Linked DNA regions of Homo sapiens: region 1 is linked to region 2. The links come from fine-mapping of genetic effects on gene expression. Tissue or cell type: sigmoid colon. Region 2 holds a variant in brackets; the other region holds the start of a gene. All regions are shown on one strand. Distances are between the middles of the regions.

Region 1 (8,091 bases), 910 kb before region 2:
TTGCACGCGTATTTTTCTGGCGTAAATCGGTGCTGATGCGGGATTTGCGCGTCCCAACGCTGGCAAGGTACGCCCGCAGTGGTGGTATTGGCTGTGCCCCGGTAGCCCTCACCCTTCCCGCGGAAGCAGCTGACAGTTGTGGCCTCTTGGCGGGGCTGTGCCTCGGACCCTTAGATGGACCGAGATAGGTCGGGCCCCGAGCGAGAGCTGAGATCCCTCTGGGGCTGGGACCAAACCCGCCTTTCCCAGGTGTACGGTACTCCACGGGGTATGCTCTCAGGTCACGCCCAGCCCCTCTTACCTCCCCGGCCAAGCCACGCCCCTCCCCAAGGTTCCCAGGTACCCTCCCAGGCCTGGTCCCCGCCGCCTACCGCAGCGGGGGAGGTCACAGAACTCTCGCTCGATCTGCGGATCCGTAGTGTAGCACCATGGCCGCTCGGAGCCGTCAGGATTCCGGCAATAGTTGTCGTCCAGACCTTGGTCGAGGAACCTGGGGGCGGTAATGGGGCGTGAACAAGACCCTGGGACTCTGGCTTATCTGGCCCCGCCCAATTGCCCTACACGGAGCCCTGCCCCTGGAGTCCTGGACCTTCCCTAGCCCGGCCCCCAGGACGCCGATACCGCCTACGCGTACTTGCCCGGCTCGAAGGGGTGCTGGTGCGGGTGCTGAAGATCCCAGCGCTGGCACTCGCGCCCTGACTCCGTGCGGTCTACCGCGCCGCGGTATTCCTCGCCATTGCACCAGACACACGCGGCTGGAGACAAAGAGCCAGTGGGTTCGTGGATGGACGTGGGCTTGTCCCTCCACTCTCCCAGCTTGACCCGGCGCCGCTTACCCTCCCGGCAGGATTTGATGCCGCAGCTCTGGAAGCGCACAGCAGGGTCTGTTGTGTAGCACCAAGGACCTCCGGGGTCGCCATCAGGGTTACGGCAGAAGTTCTCTTCCAGGCCATTCCGGAGAGTGGGCGTGTACCTGAGGGCCCAGAGCATCACTATAGTGTGTGCTGGGGGAAGGCCCCAGGCCGGGACGGAGGGAAGGTGTTTGTCTCACTTGTGATCATTTGGGAACTTGTGGCTCCAAGCCTGGCAGGGCAGGCCACCCACGGTCGTGGCCATGGTGCCCCGGTACCCAACCCCATTGTTCATGATGCAGGTCCGTACGTAGTCTGGGAGCAAGAGACAGAAGATCAACTTGGGCTGAGGTCCCCTGTCTCCCACCCTGCCCCTCTCCACCCCCACTTGCCTTTCTTCTGGAAGAGGTCACAGCGCCCAGAACGCCGCAGCCTCGTGTGGGGCGAGTGTTGAGTCCATGGCAGCAGTTGGCAACCATGGCTGCTCACGTTGTAGTGGAAGGCCCTGGAGAGAAGAAGGCACAGGGTAACGCCACAGCCCAGGCTTCCCTGCCCCCAGTCTTATCTAGGCCCAGTGGCCACTCACCGGCAGTCCATTAAGGGCCCACAGCGACCAGCACACTCTTCAGCATCTGCCACATCCTCCTGCCAAGGCCCGGGCACCACCGCATGTAGCAGGTGCTGTAGCTCTGTGCCCCGGAGCACTTGGAAGTCATTCAATGGCGAGCGCTGCCCTGCAGAGTAGGCATGAGTGGGTGCAGGTCAGGTGGGCATACATGTCAGTAATGTGTATTGGCATGTCCACACTTTGTTCATTCAGGGGATCAAAGCTACAAGGCTTCTGGGATGGACCCTGTATGCACTTTCAAGGGCCAGTCTAGCCCCCTGCACAGATACTTGTGAAAAAAATTTCCCCTGGGAAGCAGGCCCAGACTTGGTAGTTATCACCGGTGCCTCTGTTTAGTGGCCCAGGCACCGGGCTCAGATCTAACACATACGCTCTGTGAGAGCAGTGGGTGATGAAGCTTGCCCCACCTCATCTCTCAAATGAGAATGCTAAGGCTCAGAGCCATCACATTACCCAGCCAGGGGCCCTGGCTAGGCATTCAGACTCCAAATCTGGGCTCTCACCTGCACAAAGGCATATGCTAGGTTAGAGGGGTAGATCAGGCTCAGGAGGGGTCACTGCCTGCTGTGTGCGTGCATCTGTGTGGTCCTGACACTGCTTCAGTGCTAGAGCAGACGTGCTAATAGAGGCCTAAGTGGGCAATGTCTATGTGTTCCTAGGGCTTCCCAGCTGTGCTCAAGAGGGCAAGGTCACTGCCCCATGCCCACTGAGCCTCTGGCTCCCCGACTTTTTTCTCATCCTAGAATAGGAGAATGGGGCCAACCCCCTCCTGAAGGCAGATGGGGATCAGGGTTGGGGGCACTTACCAGGGACCCCTAAGCATTGAGTCAGAAGCAGCAGGAGTGGGAGCCACCCCATCCTTCTGGCTGGAGGCTGCACTGTGACCCACCACAGCCCCATCCGGGAAGTTGTGAAACCTGTCCCTACGGGATTGGGTGGCTCTGGCTCCACACGTCAGCTCAGGGCCTGCTGGACCCTGACCTGAGACCTGGTGACAGGAGCCATGAGGGGCCAGGCCTCAGGTCCCATAGGTCAGTTGCAAGGGCCTAGTACAGCTTAGTGGACAGGTGTTAGGAAGGTTTGGTGGGGACACTTGAGGTGCCCTGGGGTTGGGGTGAAACCCCTCTGCAGCCTAGTCAGCCCAAGGGCATTGTGAAAGTGAGAGCTGCCAGAGGTCTGGGCTCCAGCCCCTGGGTGACATTAAACTTTTCTGAATTTCGGTTTTTCCCTGTAAATTGGGGAAAATTACTTGCCCCAGCTTCAACACTGCCTCCCCTCCACCCTTTTGCTGCTGCCTTATCAGGCCCCAGCTGTAGGCAGGTCAGCCCACACCCGGCGGCAGAGCCCAGAGAGGCTCGCTCATCTCAGCCGCCAGAAGTGTCATCCCAGGGAAGGTGAGCGAGGCTGTCCACTAGGACTAAATAGGGGTGGAGGTAACAGGTAGCAGGGACTCTGGCAGGAACGGCCTTTCAGACGTTTTAAGGACCGTCTGAGCGGGGCCTCTAAGTATGGGTAGGAGACAGGCGGCCTAGGGATTCCGGTTAGCATGTCGCGTTCTGCCGCAGCAGGGCTGGGAGCATCCCCAGAGCAGGCGGAGGTCGGAGGTGGTGAGGCCTTTCGGCGAAGCTGAGGCCTGGAACAACCCGGTGGGAAGCCATGGAGGGGGTCCCCTAGCGGAGGCTGGGCGCGGGCCAGTGCGCGTGCGCGGCTGGAGGCTCAGCGCGCAAGCGTGCGCGTGATTTGGCCCTGAACGGACGCCGTAGCCAAGAGGTTGGGCGGATGTTGTGAGCCGGGTCGCTGCGGCCGAGGCTCCGGGTGAGTGAGGGGCGGCAGGGCTCTGAGCCTGGCGGGTTCCGGCTATTCCCTTCGCGGTCCGGGCTAGTCCAGTGCGAGGGCACCTGCAGCGCAGGGATCTGGGTGCGAAACTCCGAGCGGAAGCTGGTCTGGCAGGTCCTGTGGAGCTTGGGGCCAGGCGGGGGCGACTTGGGGGAGCCATGCGCCGCCCTCGCCGTCCTTGGGCTCCCAGACGGAGTAGGTTCAGTTCTGAGTCCGGATACCCCGGCGGGGTTGGACGGGATAGCCGTGACAGGGAGTCCCCGGGCGGGGACAAGGTCCGCCTCTCACCTGGGTCCTCAGCAACTGACTCCCGGAGCCCACTCCGGGTGTCTGGAAGGTCTGCTCATCAAATGAATGACTGAGTTTAATCAGATCTTCAACTACTCTGGTAGTGAAGGGGCACCGATCATGGACGCCCACCGAGGGCCCGAGGTCGGGAAAATCACCTTCCCGAGGAGCAGGCGTGGTGCAGACCCACAAGGGTTTGTGGCGGGAGTAGAGGGTCTGTTTGGGGTGAGATAAGAGACTGAACTGCAGAGTAGGGAGTGCTGGCTAAGGCAGTGCTGCAGAGCGAAACTCTAGACCTGCGCTGTCTAATAGAACTTTATATGATGGTGGGAACGTTCTACCTTTGTGCTGTCCAACAGAGTAACCATTAGCCACATGTGGTCATTGAACTCTTGAAATGTGGCTAAGGCAACTGAGAAATCGAATTGTTAATTTTTAAAACTTTAAATTTAAGTAACCTCATGTGGATGACGGCTGCTGTGTTGGACAGCACCGCTACACATCAGTGAGGCCAGCACCAGGGACTCAGTGCAGGTTCTGGAGCAGCTGCAGCAGCAACATGATGTGAGGGATAGATGCACTAGGAGGACCAATGGAGTTTGCCATGAGGGCTGGGCAAGGGTGGTGCTTGGATGAGGTGGGAGGCCACATGTGTGAGTGGGAATGGTGAAACTATCAGGACCATGGATAAAAGAAGGGAGGAACCCAGGGCTGAGGAAAGAGGCTCCAGCCTTGTGGGGAGTAAGTGGGACTTATGGCTAGAGATGACCAGACCAGTGGTGGTCTGCACTTGGGGGAATGTGTAGGATTGTCGCTTCTGGTTGTGAGCTGGACTCAGTATGGCTTACAACTGAGATGGATACAGGGGCTCTGCCCCTAGGACACCTCACTTTGGACATTTTGGTCTGATTTCCACAGAGCTGAGACATTTTGTTATGGTTCGGCAAAAATATATCTAGTACCTGCTCTCTGCCCAGCCCTGTGCTGGGCACAGGGACACTGGAGAACAAGAAGTGGTCCCTGTTACATGGGCCTAGACCCTGGCTACCCTCCCTGTGTAGGAAGCTGGGAGCCCCTGCATTCCCCTGCCCTATGTGTTAGTGTGCATGCCCCTGGCCTCACCTGCTCCCAAGCCTTCCTGCCATGGCAGGACTGAGGTCAGGTGTGGGGGCCCCTGGCTGGCCCTGAGTAGACAGGCTCTGTGTCTGGCTCAGCCCCCAGGACCACTGGCTGCCCATGAGAGATGAAGGATGGCATCCAAGGGGGCCGGCATGTCTTTCTCCCGCAAGAGCTATAGGCTGACCTCAGATGCTGAGAAATCCAGGGTCACAGGTAAGAGCTGGCAGGGAAGGAAGGAGGCTCCTCTTGTTGGGAGGAGAAGGAAGGGACAAAGGCCTCAGGCCTTGCTGCACCTGTGGCTGGCCTAGGACCAGAAGTCTCTGGGGCCAGCAGGGGCCAGGAGCTGCACTGATCATGTGGCCCTTTTCTCCCTTCTGACTTGTGGCTCAGGCATTGTGCAGGAGAAGCTGCTGAATGACTACCTGAACCGCATCTTTTCCTCTTCTGAACATGCACCCCCAGCAGCCACCAGCAGGTATGGCTGGGTGGGTGGCCCCTCCTCACTCTGCTGGGCCAGACCAGAATAAGGAGGCTGCAGTTGTAGGGAAAGGGAGCCTGGGCTCTGGACAGATAGGCTTAGGCTCTGTTCTCACTGTGCTCCTGGCTGCGAGATCTCTGGCCAGAGAGTCTGCCTTCCGTACTCTGCTTCTTCCTGTCTCCAGGCAGTGCTAGTTCCTTCTGAGAGTCAGGGAGCAGAGGTCAGGGAGCGGGTGCACATTCATGCCCAGCTAGCACCTGGCACCTACTCCATACCCAGCATCTGCCCCTGCATGTACCTGCCCTCACCTTGGCCCCAGCCTGGCCCCTTGTAGCTTCTGACTGACCTTGTAAAGAACAAACTCCTCCAGGGCCTTTTCTTTACAAGTTTAATACTTTTAAGTGTAGTCAGTATAAAAGTTACAAGTACATTTTAGCAGAAACTTAGAGGGCCAGGCACAGTGGTTCACACCTGTAATCCCAGCACTTTGGGAGGCCAAGGTGGGTAGATTGCTTGAGTCCAGGAGTTCAAGACCAGCCTGAGCAACATGGCAAGACCCCATCTCTACAATAAAATACAGAAATTACCTGGGCATGGTGGTGTGCACCTGTAGTCCCAGCTGTTAGGGAGGCTGATGTGGGAGGATCACTTGAGCCTAGGAGGTTGAGGCTGCAGTGAGTTGGCCTCTGCATGCCACTGCACTGTAGCCTGGGTGACAGAGCAAGACCCTGTCTCTAAAAAAAGAAGGAAAAGCACCTGCTATCTTGTTATTTTAACATGACTATTCAAATGTGATTCTTTTCTGTTTCTTTCTTTGTGTTACATTTTTAATTTTTAATTTTTGTGGGTATGTAGTAGGTATATATATTTATAGGGTACATGAGATACTTTGATACAGGCATGCAATGCGTAATAATCACATCATGGTAAATGGGGTATCCATCCCCTCAAGCATTTATCTTTTGTCTTATAAACAATCTAGTTATACTCTTTTAGTTATTTTTAAATGTACAATTATTATTTACTATAGTCACTCTGTTCTGCTACCAGATAGGTCTCATTAATTCAATTTTTTTGTACGCATTAGCCATCCCCATCTCCCCACAAGCCCTATACTACCCTTCCAAGCCTCTGGTAACCATCCAGTACTTTGCCTCTATGAGTTCAATTGTTTTAATTTTTAGCTGTCACAAATAAGTGATAACATGCAATGTTTGTCTTTTTCTGCCTGGCTTATTTCATTTAACATAATGACCTCCAGTTCCATCCATGTTGTTGCATATTACAGGATCTCATTCTTTTTTATGGCCGAATAGTACTCCGTTGTGTATATGTACCATGTTTTCTTTATTTATTCATCTGTTGATGGACACTTAGATTGCTTCCAAATCTTGGCTATTGTGAACAGTGCTGCAACAAACATGGGAATGCAGATATCTCTTTGATATACTGATTTCCCTTCTTTCAGGTATATACCCAGCAGTGGGGTTGCTGGATCATATGGTAGCTCAATTTTTAGTTTAGTTTTTTTTTTTTTGAAAAATTTTTTTTTTTGAGACGGAGTCTTGCTCTGTTGCCCAGGCTGGAGTGCAGGGGCACAATCTCAGCTCACTGCAAGCTCCGCCTCCCAGGTTCATGCCATTCTTCTGCCTCAGCCTCCCAAGTAGCTGGGACTGCAGGTGCCCGCCACCATGCCCAGCTAATTTTTTGCATTTTTAGTAGAGACGGGGTTTCACCGTGTTAGCCAGGATGGTCTTGATCTCCTGAGCTCGTGATCCGCCCACCTCGGCCTCCCAAAGTGCTGGGATTACAGGCGTGAGCCAGTGTGCCTGGCCTTTTTTTTTTTTTTTTTTTTTTTTTTGAGATGGAGTTTTGCTCTTGTTGCCCAGCCTGGAGTGCAGTGGCATGATCTTGGCTCACTGCAACCTCTGCCTCCCAAGTTCTAGTAATTCTCCTGCCTCAGCCTCCCGAGTAGCTGGGATTACAGGCACAAACCACCACACCCAGTTAATTTTGGTATTTTTAGTAGAGATGGGGTTTCGCCATGTTGGCCAGGCTGGTCTCGAACTCCTAGCCTCAGGTGATCCTCCCACCTCGACGTCCCAAAGTGCTGAGATTACAGGCATGAGCCACCGCACCTGACCAATTTTTAGTTTTTTGAGGAACCTCCAAACTGTTCTCGATAGTGATTGCACTATTATAATTTACATTCCCACTAACAGCATACAGGGGTTCCACAACCTCGCCAGCATTTGTTATTGCCTGTCTTTTGGATAAAAGCCATTTTAGCTGGTGTGAGATGATATCTCGTAGTTTTGATTTGCATTTCTCTGATGACCAGTGACGTTGAATGCCTTTCCATATGCCTGTTTACCATTCGTATGTCTTCTTTTGAGAAATGTCTGTTCGTATCTTTTGCCCATCTTTTGATGGAATTATTAGTTTTTTTCCTATAGAGTTGTTTGCGTTCTTTGTATATTCTGGTTATTAATCCCTTGTCAGATGGGTAGTTTACAAATATTTTCTCCCATTTGTGGGCTGTCTCTTCACTTTGTTGATCGTTTACTTTGCTATGCAGAAGCTTTTTAACTTCATGTCTGTTTATCTTATAATGTATGTAGTTCAGATTATGCTGTATAGAAAACTTTAAAAAAATTTATCACCTTCAGTTCTTTTCTTAAAACGTTTTTATTGAGCTATGATTAATATACAATAAACTACACATACTTAAAGTGTACAATTTGATAAGTGTTAACATATATATAAAACCCGTGAAACCATCACTACCATCAAGGTAATGGACATGTCCCTCACTTCCAAAAGTCTATAGAAGTTTGCATCCTATTTTTATCATCAAATGTTATCCCGTGAGTATTTTTCCCCATTATCAA
Region 2 (8,101 bases):
CTGCCTCCCAGGTTCAAACGATTCTCCTGCCTCAGGCTCCCGAGTACTGGGACTACAGGTGCGCACCACCACACCCAGCTATTTTGTATTTTTAGTAGAAACAGGGTTTCACCATGTTGGCCAGGATGGTCTCAATCTCTTGACCTCATGGTCTGCCCACCTCGGCCTCCCAAAGTGCTGGGATTACAGGAGTGAGCCACCGCGCCCGGCTTATCCGACTTTGAAGCAAACAAGTTAGTCTATCATAGTCTATCATATTCTCAAGGATCATGGCAGAAGGCACAGAACTCTGGGTTCAGAAACAGACAACAGATTATTGTTTACAGTAACGGCAGTAGACAGAGTAAAAGCATTTTCTTGCACCACTTCCCTGAACCGCAGTTCCTACAGAGTGATGTGATGATGGCCCGGTGATGCCTGCATATGCATTGGGTTGCACTACGGTGGAGAAACTGCATGCTGAATTTAGGGGACCCACGTCTTTTATAATAAGCTGCAAGCAAACCTGCCCAGGTGGGAGATGTTATCTTTAGTATACGGGACAATAAAATCTGCCTTTTGCTCTGGAGGGAGATACTACCTCTATCTTCTAAGGTTACTCACTATAATAATCACCCTTGTAAAGATTATTTAGAACAAGGGCAACCAGTGCCTCTACTGGCAAGTGTGCAGAAATAGGAGAGAACCATGGGGAATTGTCTCTCAATACCTTACTGGTGCTTCTTGGCATTACTTCCCAAATAATCTATTTGCATTTGGATGCTTGTCTCAGAGTGGTTTCTGCAGGAAAAAACCCAAGATAGAGAGACAACACTATATAGGCATCGATGTATTTCTGGGGTGACTCTCTTTCCTCCAGACCTCTCCTGCAAACAACGCAGGGGAGCCACGCAAAGGAAGAGGTTTCCACACCTGGGATTGATACTGCTGGGACTCCAGGGCAGGTGCTCTAAAGGACTCTTAGAATTTCATTTTTAATGTTTAATATTTGGTCCATCTAGAATTTATGGTGGAAGGTGTGAGGTAGACGTTGCACTTTTTTTTCCTTCCAAATTGCTCCAATATCACTTACTGGAAATTGTGCTTTGTCTGTTACCACTCTCTTCTAATCTGCCTGTGGCCTGTTCCTTAGAGTGTATCACAAACATACAAGTGATCAATTTCCAATAAATTGATTAAAGAATTCATGTGCATTCCCATTTTGTCAAACCACTGATTTGACACTCAGTGCTGATGCAGTGTGAGACAAACCCAAACACCCACTGTCATGATAGCACCGTTCAGGTTCTAGGGCAATGCATGGAGGTTGTGCTTTTGCTAACTGCAGAGCAAACACTACTTCAGCCTTCACAGAGAATTTAACTGTGAATAGTGAAGATTTCTTTTCTTCTCTCTGTTTCTTTTTGAGAAGAGTTTTGCTCTGTCACCCAGGCTGGAGTGTAGTGGCACAATCATGGCTCACTGCAGCCTCGAAATCCTGGGCTTAAGTGATCCTTTGGCCTCAGCCTCCCAAGTAGCTGAACTACAGACATGCACTGCCATGTGTGGCTAATTTTTAAAATATTTTTTGTAGAGAAAGGGTCTCACTATGTTGCCCAGATTGGTCTCAAACTCATGGACTCAAGCGATCCTCCCACTTTGGCCTCCCAAAGTGCTGGGATTACAAGTGTGAGCCACCACACTCTGCTAAGATTTCTTTTCATAAAAACATTTAGCAATATTTAATAACAATTTCAAAAAGTTAAGTAAAATTTTAGTTTTAAATCTTAATTTAAATTTTAATACAAGTATAACTTATAGTTTGTTTTGCCTCAATTTTACTAAGTGATTTTGATTATTTTAAAAATAACTTTTTAGGCTGGGTGTGGTGGCTAACGCCTGTAATCTCAGCACTTTGGGAGGCTGAAATGGGTGGATCGCTTGAGCTCAGGAGTTCAAGACCAGCCTGAGCAATGTGGTGAAACCCTATCTCTATAAAAAATACAAAAATTAGCCAGGTGTGCTGGTGGGTGCCTGTCGTCCCAGCTACTTGGGGAGGCCGAGGTGGGAGGATCCCTTGAGCCCAGGAGTTTGAGGTGTCACTGAGCTATGATCACACCACTGCGCTCTAGCCTGGGTGACACAGCAAGACCCCCCCGCCAAAAAAAATAATTAAAATTAAGGCCAGGCACAGTGGCTTACATCTGAAGTCCCAGCGCATTGAGAAGCTGAGGCAGGAGAATCCCTTGAGCCCAGGAGTTTGAGAGTAGCCTGGGAAACATGGCAAAACTCCATCTGTACAAAAAATACAAAAAAATTAGTGGAGTGTGGTGGCACACATCTGTAGTACCAGCTACTTGGGAGGCTAAGGTGGGAGGATCACTTAAGCCCAGGAGGTCAAGGCTACAGAGAGCCAAGATTACACCACTGCACTTCAGCCTGGGCAAAAGAGTGAGACCCTGTCTCAAAAAATAATAATAATAATTAAATTAATTTTAAAATAACAATAACTTTTTGGACTATATCATCTTTTGAAATTTTGACATATCTCATTTAATTTAACATATTTTTGTGTTCTTTGAATGTAATATTTTATTTCATTATTTAATTAATTAATTTATTTTTTTGAGATGGAGTTTCACTCTTGTCACCCAGGCTGGAGTGCAATGGTGTGGATCTCGGCTCACTGCAACCTCTGCCTCCTGGGTTCAAGAAATTCTCCTGCCTCAGCCTCCCAAGTAGCTGGGATTACAGGTGTGTGCCACCATGCCTGGCTAATTTTTGTATTTTTAGTAGAGATGAGGTTTCACCATGTTGGCCAGGCTGGTCTTGAACTCCTGACCTCAGGTGATCCACCTGCCTTGGCCTCCCAAAGTGCTGGGATTACAGGTGTGAGCCACCACACCTGGCCAATATTTTATTTTAGTCTTTTTAAAAATTATTATTTTTTTTATAGACAGGGTCTTGCTCTGTTGCCCAGTCTGGAGTACAGTAGTATAGTCATAGCTTACTGTAAACTTGAACTCCTGCCTCAAGCAATCCTGTCACTTTGGTTTCTCAAAGCTCTGGGATTACATGTGTGAGCCACCATGCCCAGCCTTATTTTAATCTTTTTAATCATTACTATGAAAAGAACAGTAATAGTGTAGAAGTCTTGACTGTAACAACATAATCAATCATTTTACTAGACTAAAGA[C/T]GAGGAGAATCAATGTTACAGAATAAATACAGAATATCTTAGGCATCAGGCAAGTCTTCATTCTCTCACTTAAACCTCAGGTCACTGAACACCTGGACATGAGTGATAATTACTAAGTTTCATCATTTTGGATATCTGCTGACTTTCAGATATATAAAAACTGTAGATTTACAGATGTTTTTACTCCTATGAAAGCTTATTTGTTCAGTAGGAGGATAGAACACATTTCATTAGCAGCTTGATTTATGGTTGTTTAATATTTAGATTCTGGTATGTGAGCCTCCACTTGTCCTTTTGCCTGGAGCACTGCAAACATCAAGGCCTATGCTCCAGTGTGCCCACAGGTACTTCTTGCTGCAATAGAGACCAGAGAAAGAGCTCTTCTGGGGCTCATGTCTCCATGGGCTCATGGTGAAGTGGGAGCTGGAGGGGTGAGTTGGGATCCAGGGGAAGACTCCGAGGAGAAACAAAAATCACCAAGTCTACACATTTCCTCCTTACAACGATTCCATAAGGCAAGTGATAACATTGTCCCCAAAGTAGAGGTGGAGGCCCGGTGCAGTGGCTCACGCCTGTAATCCCAGTGCTTTGGGAGGCCGAGGGAGGAGAATTGCTTGAGCCCAGGAGTTCAGACCAGCCTGGGCAACATGGTGAAACTAGATCTGTACAAAAAATTAGTGGGGTGTGGTGGCACACACCTGTAGTCTCAGCTACTTGGGAGACTGAGGTGGGAGGATCGCTTGAGCTCAGGAGGTAGAGGCTGCAGTGAGCCGAGATTGTGCCACTGGACTCCAGCCTGGGCAACAGGGTGAGACCCTGTCTCAAAACCAAACCAAACCAAACACCAAAAACAGAGTGGGAAACTGAGGCTCAGAGTGGGTTCATGACTTGCTCAAGTCACGATGCAGGATACCTAGCTCTAGAACCACCTGCAGCAGGGCACCGGTGTCCCCTGCAAACCCATAGCTCTTTTCACTCAGGTCACGTGGGTCCCAGGTCAACTTCATCCACAGCAGGTTCTTTCCAGCCACAGCCAGCCTGACCTGGGTGCAGGCATCAAGGCCTCTAAGTGACAGAGAATGCAGCACTCCCACCCACTGCCAGCTGCCCCAGGTAGCTTCTGAGAACTGGCCACTGCAGAGTACAAGCACAGCAATGACCTGTGTCCTTGGGCTGCCCCACTGCCCTCCTACAGGGGAGGGAGGACCTCTCTGCCATAGCCCCACCTCACAGCTGCCACCCACCCACTGGGTCCTAGCCCTTCTTAACGCCAGCATTGTCCCCATCTTCTCTGTGACATTGGGGTGGATGGGTAGCACGCTTGGCGCTGTGCTCAGTGAGGGCCAAGGAGTGACCTGAGGGTGGGAGGAGAGAGGCAAGTTCTTGCCGACACCCCGTCCAGCCTTGGCCAGGGGAGGTTCTCCATTCTGAAGGTAAAGGGGTCATGAGTGGTTAAAAGGTTGTCCTAGTGCCTCCCAGCTATGTGACCCTGACCTGCTCACTCAGCACCCTCAGCCATACTTCCAGGCCCCTGCTCTAACAATGCTGCTCCTGGGATCCTGTGATGGGAACACTCATGGCCATTCCCTTGAAATGTGGCCAGACTTCAACCCAGTCCCAGACAGTTGTCAGTGCCCACTCACTGCAGCCTCTCCTCTGCATTCTCCAGGCTATTTTCCAAAAGGCCAGATGCATGTCCTGGGTGGCTTGATGCTGAAGCTGGGGCCTGGGCCCCCTGCTGTGGGACAGGGAAGTGTGGGTGAGACAAGGCTGTCCTGAAGGAGTGACTAGAGCCAGAGGCTGCCCACCAGCAAAGGGGGCTCAGTGAGCAGGGCCTGGCACTGCTGACCCCACCTTGTTTTCCCTCCTACTCTCCCTTGGTGCTTCACACCCCCGGCTGCTCACTGGCCTAGGCAGGACACTCCTGTCTAACCTCCTGCTTTCACTGTGGACCCACACCCACACGCTGCCTCCATAGGTACACATGCCCTTTTTTTCTCTACTAACACCTGTTTCTCGTCGTCCACTCTGCCAGGCTGGACACCGGGCACTTCAGAGGTCATGCCAGATCCAGCACCGGGATGGAGGAGTCTAAGGAGGCACCTGCAGTCAGGGAGGGCTTCCTGGAGGCAGAGACCGAAGCTAAGGGCTCAGTACCCTCTCCCCCCACTTACCCCAGGTCACTGGCTGTCCTCTGAGCCTCACTCCCTGGAAGGGCCAGCAGGTTCCAGGAAGTGTCCCCTCGCCCTGCAGTGCTGGTTCCAAGAACTGCAGCTCTTGGCAGCATTTGCTTAGGATCCTTTCCTAGAACTTGAGACCTGCTCTGCCCAGACTGCTGGGGTCTCAGAGGGCAGCCAGTGGGGGTAGTGGGGGAAGGGGGTGCACTGGGAGGTGCCTCTGCAGGTAGAACATTCCATGGACCAAACATTGGGAGGTGGGCCTAGGCTGTCAGCCGGGAGTGGTTGGCCACACTAGGGTGGTCAACACCTCCAACAGGAGGTCGGTGAAATGCAGGTGCTTTGACTGCAGTCAACCATGGGGTGCGGGCCCATGAGTTCTCCCTGCACAAGAAGGAGGCTCATTCCCTTGGTCCAGAACTTCCACCAGCTTGCCACATGCCACCCTCCACCCCCCGACTCTACTCCCCCCACTAGCCTGGCACCAGGGTCCCATCCCATAGAGAATCAGCACAGGCCTTACCCTCAGAATAGGCCCTCATCAGATAACCTCCAGAGGACAGGCCAGGGTGCAGGACAGGCAGGTTCTGAGCAGGGAAGGGGGATGGGATCGTCTTGGGGCCCTTGGAAGGCCATGACACTTGTGTTATTAATCCTGTTATAATTTTACCTTTCCTGGTTAGAACTGAATAAATTACCCCACCTCACACCCCCCAGCAAAGTTGGGTCGGGTGAATGAGGGACAGGCCCTGGTAAGTGGTCAAGGACAGGGCCCTACTTCCCTCAAGGTCACCAGGCCTCCCCCTGGGGCGTGTCCTCCACCCGCCACTTCTGAGCTGGCACCAGGCCTGCCCAGCCGCCTGGGACCTGCCAGATCACGTTGAGCAACCAGTTCCTGAGAAGCGTTGAAGGCAGTGTGGTTTAAAATTAACTCCCCCGCTCCCCCTCCCGCCTGCGGCCTCCTCTGAGTTCTTGGAAGCGGCGCTCTGCTCTTCCTGGGAAGAGGCCTCCAGCCCCAGCTGCTGCAATTCTGGCGAAAACACCTCACCCAGGCTGGGGGTGGGGGGTGCCCACGCCAGGCCTTCTCTGCCCTACACAAGGCCCAGGGATCCTCTGGAAGCTAGCACCCACCCTAGTTACTCACTGAGACCCAGAAGAGAAAGGGGGTGATTGTCAAGGTGCTGGGAGGAGGTGCTCCTGCCCCCAAAGCCCACAGCTCCCAACCAGGCACCTCTGGGTAGGAGAGAAAGTGAATTGATCCCACAACAGCAAACCCAGGACCCTGGCCTACTTTGAGCCATATATGTCCTGGCGAGATGCAGCAACTTCCTAGGGCCACCCAGCTTTGCCTGCCCTTATAAGCTCAGCTTGCCCACTAGGTGCCAGGCTGATGGTGCTGATCTGGCAAGGATGCCCGGGAGCACGCCCCCGCAGGCATGCACACACCTGGGTTAACAGTGATCTCTGCCAGGATCTCTCCTTTTCTCTCACCCACACCCCTCAAACTGCCCTTGGAACACCTCTCCTCCTGGTTAAGCCTCATTTTCTCATGTCTCGTGGGCTCCGTGTCCCTGGGGCTTTGGGGGAAATGTTTCCTGAGAACCTACTCTCCCAGCAGCTCCTCCTCCCACAGCCATCCACTGGAAGGAGCTGAGAAAAACAAAGGAATGTTGGCCAAGTGGAAAGGTCAGCACAAGCATGCGTGCGCGCGTGCGCGCGCACACACACACACACACACACACACACACACACACACACACACACACACACACACACACAAGTGATGTCACTGATGTGGGGCTGGTGGGGGTGGGAGCAGTGAAGTGCTTCCTGGGAGGAGGCTGAGGGCTGAGAGGCACTTTGAAGAACAGAGCTTTGGCCCAGTCTGGACTATGAGTGCAATCCCCACCTCTGGTGGAGGAGCCCAGCTCTGGTGACAGGAAGGGCCCCATCTGGCTCATGGGTGCTGGGTGTGGGGAGAGTCCCTGGAGCAGGACTCTGCCTGAGGAGCATTTGCTGGATACCACCCTCCCCACCAGGCATGTCATCAGGGCATCATCGGTGCCAGCGCAAGCATCTCACTAGTAGGGTCTGTGTGGGTGAGACAGTCCTGGAGGGCTGCCTGGAGGAGTCATGGCAATCCTAGGTTCCCATAGCCCTCAGAGGCCCTGCCTGTTTTAATGAGGCCCGGGCCATGGAAGCAACTCTCTTTCCACTGAGCAGGAAGCTTTGACCACATCAGAAAAGCTCCCCTTCCCTGGGCCTGCTGTGTCTCCTCCTGCTCAGAGATGAGCATCGGTTTCCATTCACTCCCCATTCCCCAGCATCCAGGCCCAGCCACTCTCCAACCACTCTGAGGTCTGCATTCTGACCAAAATCAAACCTCCAGGGACCTCCTCTAGCTTGAGTCTCAGACGTGGGAACTCCAGCCTGCTGCCCCAGAGTGACTCTTGGAGTGACCCCTTGGGTGGTCCACGGGAGCCAGGGAGGGATAGGGAGGACACATCCACCATGAGAGGCTGTTGAATTTCCGGCAAAGCTCAAGTCTACTTTATCTTAAAACTGGTCTAGCAGGTTGGTGTCAAAGGCTGCCCAGGCTTGCACAGGGCCTACTTCTCCTGGAGGAAGAGGGCCTTTATGAGAGCTGGAGAAGTCTGGGATGTCCTATGCACAGACCCTGAGTCTTCCTGCCTTCGTAGTCAGGCCTCTAGGCCTTTAGGCCCCCGGCCCCTCGCCTTCCACTTCACTG

The links. PIP is the estimated chance that this variant, and not a neighbour inherited with it, causes the effect.
Region 1: RNF123 starts here. The variant in region 2 is fine-mapped to the expression of RNF123 in sigmoid colon (GTEx, PIP 0.97).

The regions. Positions count from the first base shown.
Region 1 is chr3:49,686,313-49,694,403 of GRCh38, forward strand. It overlaps RNF123 (ring finger protein 123), which reads left to right and starts at 3,245. Exons shown (of 39, transcript NM_022064.5): 1 at 3,245-3,294; 2 at 4,818-4,935; 3 at 5,113-5,197. The coding sequence starts at 4,854. MST1 (macrophage stimulating 1) reads right to left here and starts at 3,162. Exons shown (of 18, transcript NM_020998.4): 1 at 2,286-3,162; 2 at 1,438-1,585; 3 at 1,244-1,356; 4 at 1,052-1,166; 5 at 837-973; 6 at 635-755; 7 at 372-490; 8 at 1-169. The coding sequence starts at 2,379. RefSeq lists enhancers at 1-285, 286-999, 2,516-3,075 and a silencer at 554-673.
Region 2 is chr3:50,594,984-50,603,084 of GRCh38, forward strand. HEMK1 (HemK methyltransferase 1, mitochondrial release factors N(5)-glutamine) reads left to right here. Exons shown (of 11, transcript NM_016173.5): 11 at 1-1,183. Among named protein-coding and RNA genes, the nearest start is that of CISH, 13 kb to the right of the region's middle. RefSeq lists an enhancer at 4,064-7,744. The variant C/T (reference allele first, on the strand shown) is at 3,176.